Linked DNA regions of Homo sapiens: region 1 is linked to region 2. The links come from fine-mapping of genetic effects on gene expression. A gene starts in region 2. The other region holds a variant in brackets. All regions are shown on one strand. Distances are between the middles of the regions.

What was found. PIP is the estimated chance that this variant, and not a neighbour inherited with it, causes the effect.
Region 1: its variant is fine-mapped to the expression of ZMIZ2 in whole blood (TOPMed, PIP above 0.99).

Annotation. Positions count from the first base shown.
Region 1 is chr7:44,764,766-44,773,089 of GRCh38, forward strand. It overlaps ZMIZ2 (zinc finger MIZ-type containing 2), which reads left to right. Exons shown (of 19, transcript NM_031449.4): 15 at 176-244; 16 at 570-814; 17 at 1,399-1,568; 18 at 1,656-1,898; 19 at 2,751-5,116. The coding sequence ends at 2,858. Among named protein-coding and RNA genes, the nearest start is that of ZMIZ2, 20 kb to the left of the region's middle. RefSeq lists enhancers at 3,219-3,745, 3,580-3,719. The variant A/G (reference allele first, on the strand shown) is at 5,162.
Region 2 is chr7:44,744,659-44,752,982 of GRCh38, forward strand. ZMIZ2 (zinc finger MIZ-type containing 2) reads left to right here and starts at 4,189. Exons shown (of 19, transcript NM_031449.4): 1 at 4,189-4,333. RefSeq lists silencers at 3,684-4,213, 4,324-4,433, 4,444-4,493 and an enhancer at 6,274-6,743.

The DNA.
Region 1 (8,324 bases), 20 kb after region 2:
ACCTTGTACTGTCACCTCACATAGGGTCAGCTCACACAGAGTTACCTTGTTCAGTTGCCTCACACAGGATTGCCTCATGCAGGGTCACAGCTGACAGGGCTGAGAAATGACAGGGCCTGTGCCCAGGACAGGGTTGTGCAAGGTCTCTGAGCTGTGTCCCTTTTTTTCCCCACAGCAAGACAGCTTTGCTGGAGGGCCTGGAGGTGGACCAGTACATGCTGGGCATCCTGATTTACATTCAGAAGTAAGCATCCTCTTCCTGTGATCCCTGCATCTGTGGCCACTGGAGGGCAGCCCCAGGACATGTCGGGGGATGTCCCTTGCCAAGTGCAGCCTTCCAGCCTTTTTCCGGCATGGAGCAGGCTGGATTCCAGGCCAGAGACAGCGTGTGTGTCCTACCTGAGTGTTGGTGCTGGGCCCAGCGTCCTGCTCGATGTGGAAGGTGCTGGGTGGAAGCAAGCATTTGAGTGGGGGAACCTGCCTGGAAACAGCCCAGGGCTGGGAGGGGCAGTGGGTGCCGGGCCAGCAGCAGGCCAGGAGGTAACCATTCCCCACCTGTCCCTGCCCAGCTCTGACTATGAGGAGATCACCATCGACCCCACGTGCAGCTGGAAGCCAGTGCCCGTGAAGCCTGACATGCACATCAAGGAGGAGCCGGATGGGCCAGCACTGAAGCGCTGCCGCACCGTGAGCCCCGCCCACGTGCTCATGCCCAGCGTGATGGAGATGATCGCCGCCCTGGGCCCCGGCGCTGCCCCCTTTGCCCCCCTGCAGCCCCCCTCAGTCCCTGCCCCCAGCGACTACCCTGGCCAGGGTAAGTACAGCAGGCTAGCCTTGAACCTCAGATGACCCTGGGCATATGGCTCCTCTCCCCAGATCAGTCTCCTCACCTGCAAGAATGTGGCTATGCAGGTCACACACCTAGGTTATCAGTGTTGCCACACAAAACATGCCGCGGGGCACCTCCAGCCCCTCCCATCTCAGGGACGTGGCGGTGAAGGCACAGTCTCAGCTATGGTCCCAGGAAACAGACAGTGGGGCCTCCACCCTTCCTTCCCCGTTTGGATTAAGGGGCTCCTGGCTGGAACACCTCACAGGACTGGCCCCATCTGGGGCCCCCCTCTGGGACCCACCTCACACGCGTGGTGCGTTTGTTTGTGGCTGCTCCCATTCCTATAACCTCCGAGACCTTCACTCCTAGGAATGTCCCAAGGCCAATTCCCTTGGCAGCAATGAGAAGAAATGCCCTTTTCCAAATAGCGACTTCTGCAAAACCCGCTGTTGTTTGTGGGTGAGCACTGCAAGTCCCACCCATGCCACAGCCAGCCTCCCTCCTGGCTCCTCTGCCAGCGGTGGCCTTCCCCAGCCCTCACCCAGGCCCCGACTCTCCTCTCACAGGTTCCAGCTTCCTGGGGCCTGGAACTTTCCCTGAGTCCTTCCCACCCACCACGCCCAGCACCCCAACCCTTGCTGAGTTCACCCCGGGACCACCCCCCATCTCCTACCAGTCTGACATTCCCAGCAGCCTCCTGACTTCAGAGAAGTCTACCGCCTGCCTCCCAAGCCAGGTCAGTGCCAAGCCGAGAGGCCAAGGGGCCCTGTCTCCCCAGGGGAGCCCCTGAGCTGTTTTAACAAATTCTTCTCTCTGTCTTCAGATGGCACCAGCAGGTCACCTGGACCCCACTCACAATCCTGGGACACCAGGACTACACACCTCCAACCTTGGGGCCCCTCCAGGTCCCCAGCTGCACCATTCAAACCCTCCCCCAGCGTCCCGGCAGTCCTTGGGCCAAGCGAGCTTAGGACCTACGGGTGAACTGGCCTTCAGTCCTGCCACAGGCGTGATGGGGCCCCCCAGCATGTCTGGAGCCGGGGAGGCCCCAGAACCAGCTCTGGACGTGAGTACCAGGCCCCATGCGGGGGAGTGCGTGGGAGCCAGGGCTAGAGGTGGTGTGTCTGTTCCAGGTGCGTTCTGGAAGGGAAGACAGTGACCCCTCAGAGAGCCGGTCAGATAAGGTCAACTAAATGCAGCTTTTGTTCATGAATTAGATACCTGGAGTAGCTGCGGGTGGGATGCGATGTACCACATTTGTGTTCATGAGGGGCCTGGATGCCGTACGGGCGGACGCAGAGTCTCAGAGGAGACTGCACTGGAAGCTGACAGCACGGTCCTTAGAGTCAAATTTCGTCTGTCCATTTGCTCAGTAGCCCTGGGTCTTGACTCACAGGTGGAATGGGAGTGCAAACTCAGTACATGAAGGACAGAACTGACTGTCCCTGGACCATAATAGAAACTCATTCTAGAAGTTCAACATGAAACTCATTCTAGAAGTTCAACATGAAAAAGTTAGGAAGAACAGCTCCAAGCAGAAAATCCTAGGGGCATGGAATTCCACCACCAGCATTCACCTTGGGGCATCACGGTGGGGATCCCCACGCAGGCTGATGCACAGAGGGAGTGTGGAGTGGCTGCACTCCCTCACATCCCGTTTCCTGGTGGTATTGAACAGCATGTTGCCAGCTGTTCTGGCCCCAGAGCAACCTTGCAGGGAGGTCCCAGGGGGTGGCGTGTGCCTCTTTGAGCACATGCAGGCCTATGGTGGGGCCCCGCACCCGGCCTGTGTGTGAGGAGGGGCTGCTCAGCATCCCCACTGTGCCTGGAGACAGGGCCGGGATGTGGTGACAGGATGGTCACTCAGGTGTGGCCAGTCAGTGACCAAAGCTGCTAACAGAGTTCACTTTGTCCTCAGCTGCTCCCGGAACTGACCAACCCTGATGAGCTACTGTCCTACTTGGGCCCACCCGACCTCCCTACGAACAACAATGACGACCTGCTTTCTCTGTTTGAGAACAACTGATCCTGTGTTTACCCCAAGCCCGGCGGGGACACGCTCACAGATGTCACCACAGCCCTGCCCTTCATGCCCAGCCCCATGGGACACCCGGTGGTCTTTCCCAAACCTCCCCCAAAACACACCTGGAGCCAGAGCCTTCTGCCGCCAGCCCTGCCCCTGAATTGGAAGCAGCCCTGTGCTCGATGGGAGGGGCTCCCAGGCCGGCAGCCCTTGCCACCTCCCTCTGCCAAGCCTGCTGCTGCAGAACGGTTTTTGCTGAGGTGCCCCTGCCCAGCCCTGTCCAGCCTTGTCCACACACACATCTCACGCCCCTGGTCTCACAGCCTCACACCTTGTCCTTCCACCCCTGCCTGCCCCCACCCAGCCTGCTTCTTGTCCAGCATTGATCCTTCTGTTTCAACAACTCCTCCACTGGGCAGAGCTGGGCATCTGGCAGGGCTGGCTCTGTCCCCTGGGCCTTTGGCTCCAGTGGCCCCTGTGCCCAGCAGTCCAGCTCTTGGAACCTCGCTGAATGGCAGCCTCTTGGGGGCCTGGAGCTCTGGCAGCCCAGCCGTGTGTGGTGTCAGGTTCCTCTCCCCACCCCAGCTTCAAGCAGAGGCCTCGGGGTGGGGGAGCTACAAAGCACAACAATGTACATAGTGTAGAAACACTAACAGCTGGGAGAGGGGAGCCAGCTGTCCAGCCAGCATGTTCCTGTTGTACAGCCCGGTCTCCCTGCGCGCTCTGCTCCTTCCCATGTGCAGACAGATCAGGGAGGAACCTCCAATGGGTGGGGGACAGTGAGCTTCGGCCTGGCCGAGGTGGGTGGGTGGGCTCTCAGATTCAGCTCTGTGTAAAGATTCTCTAGCGGGCTGCGCTCCCAAGTTCCCCTTCTCTGTGAAAGTGAAGAATTAGTACAGCTGTGTTTTTTAAAGCCACCTCTCTGTCTCCACCCCATGGGCCCACACCCAGGTGGGGGAGGAGGAAGCCACTGCATCTGTTGGCTCAGGGCCCCAGCCTGTGCGAGCAGGGCGCCTGGGCTGTTGTGTCTCCTGTCTGTGCCGATCTCTATTAAAGGACTCCCTCTTGGTGGGCCTGGCCGAGTCCCTCCTTTGTGCTCCCAGGGACTATTTTCTCCTCGTAAGCCAGCGACCTGCCTAAAGCTTGGGCTGTGCCTGCAAAGCTTGTGCAGGACCTGGGGGCCAGGTCGACCTTCAAGTGGCTTTTGGGGCCCCAGGTTGAGCTCTGGATGTTTCAAGCCAAGGCTCGGCTATTCCCGCCCCATAGTAAATTTCCTTTTCCCTGGAATTTTCCAAGTTGGCTTCAGCTGAAGAGCTGTTTTGTGAAGCATCCCAGGCTTGCCCAGGAGAGACATTTGCCACTATGTCACCTTATCTGGGCTTGCCCTGGGGCACTGAGACAGTTGTTTGGCAGCCCCAGCCCAGCCAGGGGCTCATCCTTCTCAGCTCTTGTCCCTGGGAGGCCTCTGCTTGTCACTTCCCAGAGATTGCAGAGGTGTGTCCTGCCTACCATCTGCCTGTCCAGCTTGGTGGGGGTCCGGGTCACCATTTCCTCCAGTCCTGGGCCCCATCCTTGAGGGCCTTCCCAGCCAGCCAGCAGGAGAGGCAAGAACTGGGGGAACACAGGAACCTAGGGGAGGAGGGGAGCGCTGGGCATCCTCAGGCTGGCGGCCAAGGCCTGCCCCTGGAGGCACTAGAGGAGGGCATCTGTCTGTGGGAGCCCAGAGGCTGCAGGGAGGAGGAGGAGGGAGGTATCTGGTGTGAGCGTTGCCCCTGCGACATTTGGGACCACACAGGTGGGCTTCCTTATTCCCTGACAAAGCCTCTGTTTCCAGCTCTTCCGCCCTCTCTGGATGAGGGAACAGAAGTGGAGGAAACAAAAGAAGCAGCAGCACGCACAGTCCTGTCGCTGGGTGCGGAGACAGCCTGGCAAAGTCCCACTCAGCCATGGCCTGATGCAGGCCCCAGGCCCTCCTTTCTTGGGTGTCAAATGACTGTGTCCTGGACATCTGATGCACCACCTGCCCTGCCTGTTGCAAACGTGATGCTCCCGGATGGAGTGGAGAAACTAGGAGACTGGGACAAGCAAAAGGCTGCAAACAACCCAGAAGCCCATCCTCAGAAGACTGGAGAAATGATTGAGGAATGCATGGGCACCGTGGCCCTGTGCTCCATCACAAACACCTCTCAGAAACAACGTGGGATGAAAAAGCAAGACAGTTCATACAGTATGATGCCATTTTTATAAAGCTCAAAACCAAATATGTGTGGAATTCATACCCAGGTGCTAAAGTCATCAGGGAGGGC[A/G]GGGAGTCAGTACAACACAGTGCTCACCCGTGGGGAGGGGACGGAGCTGTGCTTAGGGAAGAGCAGAGATGCTGGAGGTTTTGAACCTCAGGGTCAGTGGTGGCTTCGTGGGTTTCACTTTGTCGTACTTTCTGTTTCACACATTTTCTTGTGAATGTGCCAAGTATTACATAAAAACCAAAAGGCTGACCAGACTTAACAGTGCTCCACCCAATAGCAGCAGAACACACGTTTCTAAGTGCACAGGGAACGTTCTCCAGGACAGACCACACGTTAGTGCACAAAGCAAGTCTCAGTAAATTAGAGATCGGAATCCTGCAAACCACCTTCTCCAATCACAATGGAATAAAACCAGAAATCCATACCAGAAGGAAAATGAAAATTCACACATACATAGAAATTGAACACACTTTTTAACAGCCAAAGGGTCAAAGGAGAAATCACGAGAAAAATTAGGAAATAGAGATGGATGAAAACAACATACCAGAACTTAAGGAATGCGGCAAAAACTGCTCTGAGGGAAATTTATAGCTGCAAATGCCAACATTTAAAAAGATGCGACATCTTGGCTGGGTGTGGTGGCTCACGCCTGTAATCGCGGCACTTTGGGAGGCCGAGGCAGGCAGATCACCTGAGGTCAGAAGTTCGAGACCAACCTGGCCAAAGTGGTGAAACCCTGTCTCTACTAAAAACACAAAAATTAGCCAGGCGTGGTGGCTCACACCTGTAATCCCAGCTATTCACGAGGCTGAGGCAGGAAAATCACTTGAACCCAGGAGGCAGAGGTTGCAGTGAGCTGAGATCATGCCATTGCACTCCAGCTTGGGTGACAGAGTGAGACTCTGTCTCAAAACAACAACAAAAAAATTCCTAGAAAGATACAAATGACCAAAATTGTCCCAGGAAAAATAGAAAATCTGAACAGGGCCAGGTGCAGTGGCTCACACCTGTGATCCCAGCACTTGGGGAGAACTAGTTAGGAGGATGGCCTGAGGCCAGGAGTTCGAGACCAGCCTGGGCAACAGAGACCCTGCCTCGACAAAATCTTTAGAAATCAACCAGGTGTCATGGCACGTGCCTGTAGCCCCAGCTACTTGGGAGGCTGAAGCAGGAGGATAGCTAGAGCCCAGGAGTTCAAAGCTGCAACGACCTATGACAGCACCACTGCACTCCAGCCAGGAATGAGGCAGAGACAGAGACCTGACCTCAAAAAAAGAAGAAAAAGGAAAAAATCTGAACCAACCTAAAACACATAGGTAGAACCAGTCATCAAAAGCTTCCCAACAAAAGAAAAGCCCAGGACCAGATGGTGAATTCTACCAAATGCTAAAGAATGGACATAAATCCCCAAATTCTCCCAAACATTGTGGAGGAGAAAACACTTCCTAATTCCCCGTATTCATGTGAGGGGCCAGCTTCCCTCCCATTCTGCCCCAGCTTCCTCCAGTGGCCTTCCCCAGCAGGCAGTGGCCCCCACTTCTGACCCCTGTAACTCTACCCACTGTGGGTTTCCTCCTTGCCACCCTTCCAGCCTTCCAGGCTTTGGGGGCCATTGAGACAGCCCATCCTGCCTGCCCTGAGTGGGAGGGCAAGACATGACTGGCTCAGGATGGCCTGTCACCCAAGTTGCCTCAAAGAAGCCAGGGACATCAGTGCAGTCGGATGCACAGTGCAGTAGGTTTTGGTAAGTGCACACGCGTGTGTACCTGCCCTTCCAAACCTCACAGGAGAGACCAACCCACACCCCACCCCAGGTCATCACTGTTCTGGCCCCTGTCACCAGAGATTAATTTTGCCCTTTCTGAAACTTTATGTCAGTGAATATTAGAGTCTGTGTCTTGTTGTTAACTGATCCTTAAAGCGTCTGTGTTTATTTTCTTTTTTTTTTTTTTTAAGACGGAGTCTTGCTCTGTCGCCCAGGCTGGAGTGCAGTGGCATGATCTCAGCTCACTGCAACTTCCGCCTCCCGGGTTCAAGTGATTCTCCTGCTCAGCCTCCTGAGCAGCTGGGATTACAGGTGGCGCGCCATCACGCCTGGCTAATTCTTGTAATTTTAGTAGAGATGGGGTTTCACCATGTTGGTTAGGCTGGTCTCGAACTCCTGACCTTGTGATCTGCCTGCCTCGGCCTCCCAAAGTGCTGGGATTATAGGCTTGAGCCACTGTGCCTTTTTATTTTCATTTAACTGTATATTGTTCTTGTTCATTCTCTCAGTTACCACTTAGAAGGGAGGATTAATGGGTACCCTTCCCCAGCATCCTATACCCCAGCTCTTCTCTGACCAAGTCTTGAACCCTGTCATGGTACATTAGCTAGGACTCAATAGGTTGCAAGTGACGGTGACCAATTCAAACCAGTTAAGGAAGGAAGGGGCTCAAAATAGCAGTCCTGAAAGGGCCCTGGGGCAGCTGGACATGGGTAGGCATCCTTCCTTGGCCTCTGTGTGCAAGCTTCACCCTCAACCAGCTGCTTCTGTGAACTTGAGATCCAAGCTTCGGAGCCTCACTTCTCATTGATTCACCCTAGAAAAGAGGTGATGATCACTCTCCTTCTGGTTCCAAGTTTAAAATCCCAGGGATGGGATCTGGTTGACTCAACCAGGTAGGGACCCACCCACACAGCTAGAGTGGGGTCAGGAGCACTGCCCGAAAGAAGGGAAGCAGTTATCACAAGAGGGAGTACAGAGGGCCTCCCATTGCCTTGGGATGAAGTCCTTGCCTGCTCCCAACAGTCTCCACATTACCTCGTTCCTGCCCGTCTACCTTCTGGGTCAGGCTTCAGCTAAGACGCCATTCCTGGGAGAACCCTCTGCCTCCAGGATAAGTCAGGGCCTCCTCCTGAAGCCTTGATTCACTCTGTGGAATGCCTTTCACAGTTCCCATCGTAGCTGATCAGTTAAACCGTGGTGTGATTGTTCTTCCCACTTTTTTTTTTTTATTTTTTAGAGATGGGGGGGTGTCACTCTGTCAGGTGGAGTGCAGTGGTGCAATCACAGCTCACTGCAGCGTTGACCTCCAGGGCATAAGCACTCCTCTCATCTCAGCCTCCCAGGTGGCTGGGGCCACAGGCTTACACCACCACGCCTGGCTAATTTTTTTTTTTTAAGCAGAGTCTCACTCTGTCCTCCAGGTGGGAGTGCAGTGACGCGATCTCGGCTCACTGC
Region 2 (8,324 bases):
TAGGATGTAACTATTAGCTTGCTAACACAAGCTCCACGACAATGCAGATTTTCATCAGTTTTACTTACTGCCATGTTTCCAGCACTGAGAGTGGTATCTGGCACACAGTAGAAGCTCAACAGAAAATTGTTGAATGAATGAATACAGCTTGTGTGTAATTTTTCAATATCCTAATGTCACAGCAAACATCCTTGTAAATAAATCTTTGAAGTATTTATTTTGTGAGAAACACAGATAATGCTTGTAAGGGAAATGTTTATGTTGATAATGTGAAAAAATAAGAATGCAAAATCATACATATGCCATATTCTCCACAACATCAAGATATGCAAAGAGAACCATCTGGGAAAAAAACAGAGCAAACAATTGACTGGAATTATCTCTGAACAGTTTTAAGGTATTTTGAACATTTCTCTGTATTTTCCACAATGAGAATATACCGCTTGTATGCAAAGGAGCAGCAGCACCTTTCTCTTTTTTTTTTTTTTTTGAGATGGAGTCTCGCTCTGTCGCCCAGGCTGGAGTGCAGTGGCGTGATCTTCGCTGACTGCAAGCTCCACCTCCTGGGTTCACGCCATTCTCCTGCCTCAGCCTCCCAGGTAGCTGTGGCTACAGGGCCCGCCACCATGCCTGGCTAATGTTTTGTATTTTTAGTAGAGACAGGGTTTCACCATGTTAGCCAGGATGGTCTCGATCTCCTGACCTCGTGATCCGCCCACCTCGGCCTCCCAAAGTGCTGGGATTACAGGCGTGAGCCACTGCGCCCGGCCTACCTTTTTCTTTTTAAAGTTAGTTTTGCAAGTCAAGAGTCATAGTAACTGGGGGTACCCAAACTGGTTAAAAACCAAATTCAGGTTAAGGCCACACCAACTGTAGGAGACTGTGGACTCGCAGGAGCCCCTGGACGCTGGGCTAGGCTGATTACATTTAGGATATCAGGTTCCCTTTCTGGTGTCACATTTTAAAAGCGATATTGTCTAACTGGTGCCTGTCTAAAGGAGAGTGGCCAGTTGGTACAGGATCTGAAAATTGTGTTACTGTTAACACTTAAGGAACTGGGAGCATTATTCCTCCAACAGAAGACTGGGGGATTGAGAAGTTGCTTTTAATATTTGAAGAGCTGTCAAATAACAAAGTGATGATTCTTATTTTATGCACTTGTAGAGGAAAAGCTTCAATAAGGCAGTTTTTTTATTCTAGTAAATGAGGAAGACTTTTTTTTTTTTTTTTGAGACAGAATCTCACTCTGTCGTCCAGGCTGGAGTGCAGTGGTGTGATCTCGGCTCACTGCAACCTCCACCTCCCGGGTTCAGCAATTCTCCTGCCTCAGCCTCCCGAGTAGCTGGGACTACAGGTACACACCACCATGCCCGGCTAATTTTTGTACTTTTAGTAGAGACAGGGTTTCACCATGTTGGCCAGGCTGGTCTCGAACTCCTGACCTCACGTGATCTGCCTGCCTCGGCCTCCCAAAGTGCTGGGATTACAGGCGTGAGCCACCGCGCCAGGCAACTTTTTTTTTTGGGGGGGTGATGGTGGGGGGATAGAGTCTCGCTCTGTCACCCACGGTGGAGTGCAGTGGTGCGATCTCAGCTCACTGCAACCTCTGCCTCTCGGGTTCAAGCGATTCTCCTGCCTCCGCCTCCCGAATAGCTGGGAATACAGGTGCATGCCACCACACCTGGCTAATTTTTGTATTTTTAGTAGAGTAGGGTTTCACGCCACCATGCCTGGCTAATTTTTGTATTTTTTAGTAGAGACAGGGTTTCACCATGTTGGCCAGGCTGGTCTCGAACTCCTGATCTCAGGTGATCCACCCATCTTGGCCTCCAAAAGTGCTAGGATTACAGGCGTGAGCCACTGTGCCCGGCCTCAAGGAAGACTTTCTTAACAATTCATCATATAGTAGAAAATGAAAACATTCCCTAGAAAGGAGTGGACACCAGGTGGCCTTTCCCAGGGGAGCAGGGCAGGAATTATTGAAGCAGTTAGGAGGTGAGAGAGATGCCTGCCCTGGGGGCACCTGGGATGCTTGGCGTGGCCACTTCCAGCATCCTCCACAAACCTGCCTGCAACTCCCCCATACATGCAGCCTCTTCCGAGACAGAGGAATGGTCAGGGTCCCCTGGTGCCTGCCTCCCCCTTCATTTGGGTCTCTTCTTCAGGGCCAGCTCCACAGAGAATCCGTCCCTCATACCTCATCACTCCCTCCCCATTCTCTGGCCCTGATTTAGTTTTCTTCCTAACACTCTTTCTGACAGACACACTGTTACCTGTTAACTCATTTCCTTCTGTTTGTCCCCTCTAACATGCTTGCTGTATGGATGGAGGGGCCTTATTCTCCTGGTTCCTGGGGACAGACCAGTGTTCACAGACCCCAGACCAGGGACTGTTGTACAGCAGGCCTGCCATATTTGTTCAATGAACGAATGATTCCCAAAAGAAATAGAGCACAGAGTTCAGAGGCGGCCTTCAGGGAAGAAATTTCAACAATGTCAAAAATTAATTGTGGAGTATCCATTGATAGATGAATGGATAACTTAAATGTGGAATATGCATACAATGGAATATTATTCAGCCATAAGAAAGAAGGGGCTGGGCGCCGTGGCTCACGCCTGTAATCCCAACACTTTGGGAGGCCCAGGCAGGCGGATCACGAGGTCAGGAGATCGATTCCATCCTGGCCAACATGATGAACCCCGTCTCTACTAAAACACACACACAAAAAAATTAGCCAGGCGTGGTGGCGTGCCCCTGTAGTCTCAGCTACTCAGGAGGCTGAGGCAGGGGAATCGCTTGAACCTGGGAGGTGGAGGTTGCAGTGAGCCGAGATTGCACCACTGCACTCCAGCCTGGCGACAGAGTGAGACTCCGTCAAAAAAAAGAAGGGAAGGGAAGGGGAGGGAAGAAGGAAGGAAAGAAGGAAGGAAAGAAAGAAAGAAAGAAAGAGAGAGAGAAAGGAAAGAAAGAAAGAAAGAAAGAAAGAAAGAAAGAAAGAAAGAAAGAAAGAAATTCTGACACATGCCACAACATGGATGGAAGTGAGGACACTGTGCTAACTAAAGTAAGACTGTCACAAAAAGACATATAATGTATGATTCCACTTATACGATGTCCTTAGAGTAGTCTAATTTAGAGACGAATAGTGAATGCCAAAGGCTAGGAGGAGGAAAGAATGGGGAGCTAGTGTTTACTGGGTATGGAGTTTCCATTTGAGAAGATGAAAAAGTCCTGGAGACGGTTGGTGGTTGCACAAGAATGTGAATGTACTTGGTGCCACAGAACTACACTTGGAAACAGTTAAGATGGTAAGTTTTACGTTATGTGTATTTTACCACAATTAAGAAAAATTAATTATGGGTAGTTGAGAGAATGTGGTCTTCCTCAACTTACGGTAGGAAAAGTCAAGAATAACTTAAAGGCTGATAATAGCATTTCAAAGATCGAAACTGATCAGAGAGGCTATTCCATCAGGCTAGACTAGCTCAATAGTGACTTTTTCCAGAAGGAGAACCACTGGGAAGAGAGAACTGAGCAGTGAGGACAGCGAACTTGTTAAGTTTAGTTTTCTGCTTTAACGAGGGGCTTCCGGAGTCCTTTAATAAGATCCCCTCCCAAAAGTGGCACCCTGGGTCTCTCTGTCTCCCAGTCGTGTCCCCGCCCGCCGGGCCAGAGCAATGGACTCCCAGGAAGCAGGGGGGGCGCGGGCGGGGCGCGGGCGGGGCGGGTGGGGGAAGGGCAAGGACTCACTCTTCCTTTCCTCCTCCGCCGGGGCCCGCCCCGAGCCCTGGCCCCACCCCGGCTCTCTGGATCCGCCTCCTCCTCCCGACCCCGCCCCGGCACCTTGGCCCCGCCTTCCACTCGGCCCCGCCCCGGCGTCCTGGCCCCGCCTCCGCCGCCCGGCCCCGCCCCGCTCCCGGCGGACTGCGAGCAGGAAGAGCGCAGTGGCTCTGCCGACGCCGCGTTCAGAAAGGTGTGGAGGGGGCTGGGGGCGCAGGTCGCGATCAGGCTGCGTCTCCTGCCCGCCCAGCCACCTGCGGCCCTGGCCCCACCCTGCCGCTTTGGGCCGCTCGGGCTCGCGGCCGCCCCCGCCCCGAGCGCCGGCTCGGGGCTCTGCTGCTCTGGCCTGGGAGGCGGGGCCGGCTGCGCGGCGTCATGCATATGCATGAGCGGCGCGGCGGCGGCTCCATTGTGCCCTCGGAGCGGGCGGCGGCGCGATGGCGCGGGTGGCGGCGGCCCCGGGGCGGCGGGCGGCGCGGAGGGCGGGCTGAGCGCATGGAGCGGCGCGGGCCGGGGGCCGCCACGGCGAGGGGCCGGGCCAGGCCGGGCGGAGGTGAGCGGGGTCCTGGGGGTGGCCCCTGGCAACGCCGCCAGCAGGCAGGTGTGGGCCGGCGGGGGCAGGCAGGTGCGGCAGGTGCGGGCCGGCAGGTGCGGGCGGGCAGGCAGGTGTAGCTGGTCGCCCGGGGCGCCCCGGTTCCGCTGCGGCGCCACGGTAGGGTTCACAGCTGGGCTGGGGCTAGAGGCTCTGCCGCCCACCTGCCGGCACCTGCCACGCGTGCGTCGTGGTCTTGGGCAGGCTCGGCCCCGTGGGCGTCAGGGTCATCCAGCCCTCCCCTGAGTCTTTGTTGGAGGCTGGCCGAGGGGTGTAAGCGGCGCTCGGGGTTCTCCTGAGCGATGAAGGCTGGCCGGGCCTTCGCTCCAACCTGATCGTTCCTAGCTTTGGGGCCAGGCAGTCTCACCTACATGGTACGCCCCTCCGCTCCTACTTACGTGCCCACCAGCACGGCGATGTGGGGGCCGTCTGAGGCCGTCACCTGCTCGCGGAGGAGCTGTTCCGCTCCTGGGCTGAACGACGCTGAGCGGCCAGCCCCCAGCTGCCAGTTTTGATGGGGACACCCCTTTCCAAACTGGACATACTGAAGCTCAGGCGTGAGGATGCCCTGCTCCCCTGAGGTGCCTTGTCTTCCCTAGTGCCAGGTGTCCTTCACCGCGGCACCCCCACCCGGTGCCTTGTTTACCCCTCCACCTACCGTGTCTCTCCTCCCATTCCCTGGACCCTCTGCCCTGCAGTGTTCTGCCTCTCCTTCTCCCTAGGGTACCCTCTTTCCAGTATTACAGAACATCCATGGTGGTGTCTTTAATTTGTGTCATCGCAGATTTCACAGGGACACACACGGAACATGTGACTTGGTCTGAGACCGTGGTGATTACGGATAGGATGGACACAGACTCACCACCAAGTTCTGGCAAGCTAGAACCAGAGGGCATCCCTTGATGCTTAGTGTGGAAACAGGAGAAGTGAAGGAATCTTAACTTCCAGAGGTACTGACCTCTAGCCCTTGTCATGCCCAGGGGATAGTTACAAGCTGGAAGTGTAAATGAAGAGAACAAGCAGGTGACAGTTGCCGGTTGTAGATTTCTGAAGGACAGGCCTAAGATGTTTGGGGAGCATCCTGATTATTGGGATTGAGCTCCCAAGGGCTGATGACATGAAGGTGGTCATGTGTCCTCAGTCCTAGGATGCTACCAGATATCCATCTTACACATTGTAAACTGATGCCAGGTTAAGGTTGTCCCTTCAGCTGTTCACTGAAATGTCTCATGCCTGGGCCATTGCTTATTCCTGGACTTTTTGATGAACTCTGCATCCTGACTTAGCCCCACGCTTAGACATTTTAGTACTGTGGCCTTACAGGTAGAGGGGGCAGGACTTTCAGCTACCTGTATATGTGAGTACCCCACTTTTTGCTACCAAGGACCCCGCTCCTGCAACATTCCACAGCCATCATTTCTTCAATACCCTTTGACTCCATTGTCACCTGGGTTGGATCCTGACCCTGCAATCTTGGAGACAGTGAGTCCTGATGTGTGACCTATTGAGAAGCGTTGCCTGCCACAGGGCCCACTTGCTGGTCCTGCTCCTAGCTGACTAGGCAGGCAGAGAGGTGGCATGGAACAAGGCTCAGGAGGTCAACCAGGAGACTTGGGGGTGCAGCTACTCTGGGACATTTGGGGAAGAGAGGTCTGGGGTAGTGAGTTCTGTAACTCTGTCTAGAGGAAGATGTGATCTGACCCCCGAGAAAGCCTTGTGGCCCTCTAGACTGACCTTGTCCATCTCTCAAGGGGTCCTAGCTTCCAGCTGGAGTTAGTTTACAAGGAAAGCGCCAGGCACTAAGACCCTTGGTGGGCATGGGCCTTGCATGATCTGGGATCCAGATTCCAGGCTCCAGGCTTGTTCCCAACCCAGACTCAAAGCCAGGAGATGAGAAGAGGATCTGCACACACACAACGCAGAACACTATCCTATCATCAGGGGCACAGGGTCAAGGATACCAGACCTGGAGACTGGAAGTCTTTTCAGAGAGACTGTCCTCAGAGAGGAGACCAGAGGCATGAGTTCGGGTCGGCAGGAAATCCCCCTGTGCAGTGAAGAGTAAGCTCAGAGGGAACTGGAAATCTTTGTGGTCTCTGTCCACAGCAGAGAACCATCAGGGGTGGAATTCCCCAGGCTCATGTGACATAGGAGCCTGCTGTGGGCTCCTCCCCTCCTTGTACCTGCCCTGTGCTCCTTCTCCCCAGCTCACTGCATTTCCTAGATCTGAGGTTCTCAAACTACAGTTCCTGGACCAGCAGCAGCAGTAGCTGCAAACTTGTTAGAAATTCTGGGCTTAGGCCCCAGCCCATCCTACTGACTTCAGGTGGGGCTGGGCAGCCTGTCATCACCAGCTGCGAGCTGGTTTTGATGTGCTGCAGTTGGGGAGCTGCTGCCCTAGGTGACCTAAAATGAGGCAGTGCTGCACAGAGTGCTGCCTGCACTTTGAGGCCTTTGACCACGGGCGGGGGAGGGGGCACATCTGCTTGCCTGCCAGATTCCCTCTCTGTTCTTGGGACAGCAAAGTGGCCAGCCAACCCAACCAGCTTTCTAGTGGGGAAAGATTGTCACAGCAGTTCTGCGGAGACAGAAGGCTGGTGGTAGCAGTTGTATTGTAATTAAACTTTTTATTTTGAAATTATTGGCTGGACACAGTGGTGCTCACCTCTAATCCCAGCACTTTGGGAGGCCGAGGTGGGTGGATCACTTGAGGTCAAGAGTTCAAGACCAGCCTGGCCAACATGGCGAAACTTCATCTCCACTAAAAATACAAAAATTAGCCAGGCATGGACTATGGTGGTGTACACCTGTAGTCCAGTTACTCAGGAGGCTGAGGCAGGAGAATCGCTTGAACCTGGGAGGTGGAGGTTGCAGTGAGCCTAGATCGTGCCACTGCACTCCAGCCTCGGTGAAAGAGCAAGATTCCATCTCAAAAAGAAAAAAAAAAAATTAAAGATTCATGTGCATTATAAGAAATGACACAGAGAGATTTATTCTGTCCTTTACCCAGTTTGCCCCAATGGTAACATCTTGGAAAACTAGTACAACATTGCACCAGGACACTACACTGATACAGTAAAGAGGTTACAGCCTGTTGCCTTCTATTTTTTTTTTTTGAGATGGAGTTTCACTCTTGCTGCCCAGGCTGGAGTGCAATGGTGCGATCGGCTCACTGCAACCTCCACCTCCTGGGTTCAAATGATTCTCCTGCCTCAGCCTCCTGAGTAGCTGGGATTACAGGCGCCCACCACTACGCCCGGTTAGTTTTTGCCCAGCTAATTCTTATGTTTTTAGTAGAGTTGGGGTTTCACCATGTTGGCCAGGCTGGTCTCGAACTCCTGACCTCAAATGATCTGCCCACTTCAGCCTCCCAAAGTGCTGGGATTACAGGCGTGAGCCACCGTGCCCAGCCTGTTGCCTTCTTATATTCACGCCCACCTTCCTCCTGCCAAAATTACAGAAATGGAGAAGAGATTAGTACCTTTCTCTTTACCCCCACATTTAACCCCTGGCAATCACCAATCTGTTCTCCATTTCCCTAATTTTGGTGTGTCAAGAATGCTAAATAAAGGAATCGTACACCGTGTAGCCTCTTGGGATTGGCTTTTTCCACCGAGCATTAATTCTCTGGAGATTCATCCAGGTTGTTGCATATATCAGTAGTTCATTCCTTTATATTGCATCCGGGCTATGGATGTACCACCGTTGATTTAACTCTTCATCCATTGAAGGACATCTGGGCTGTTTCCATTCCATAGCTCTTGCAAATAAAGCAGTTATAAACATTTGTGTACAGGTTTTTATGTGAACATAAGTTTTCATTTCTCTGAGATAAATGCGTACAAGTGCAGTTGCTGGGTCATAGTAGGGTAGCTGCTTGCTTAGTTCCATATGATACGGCCAGACTGTTTCCCAGAGTGGCTGTACATTTTACATTCCCACTAGTAATGTG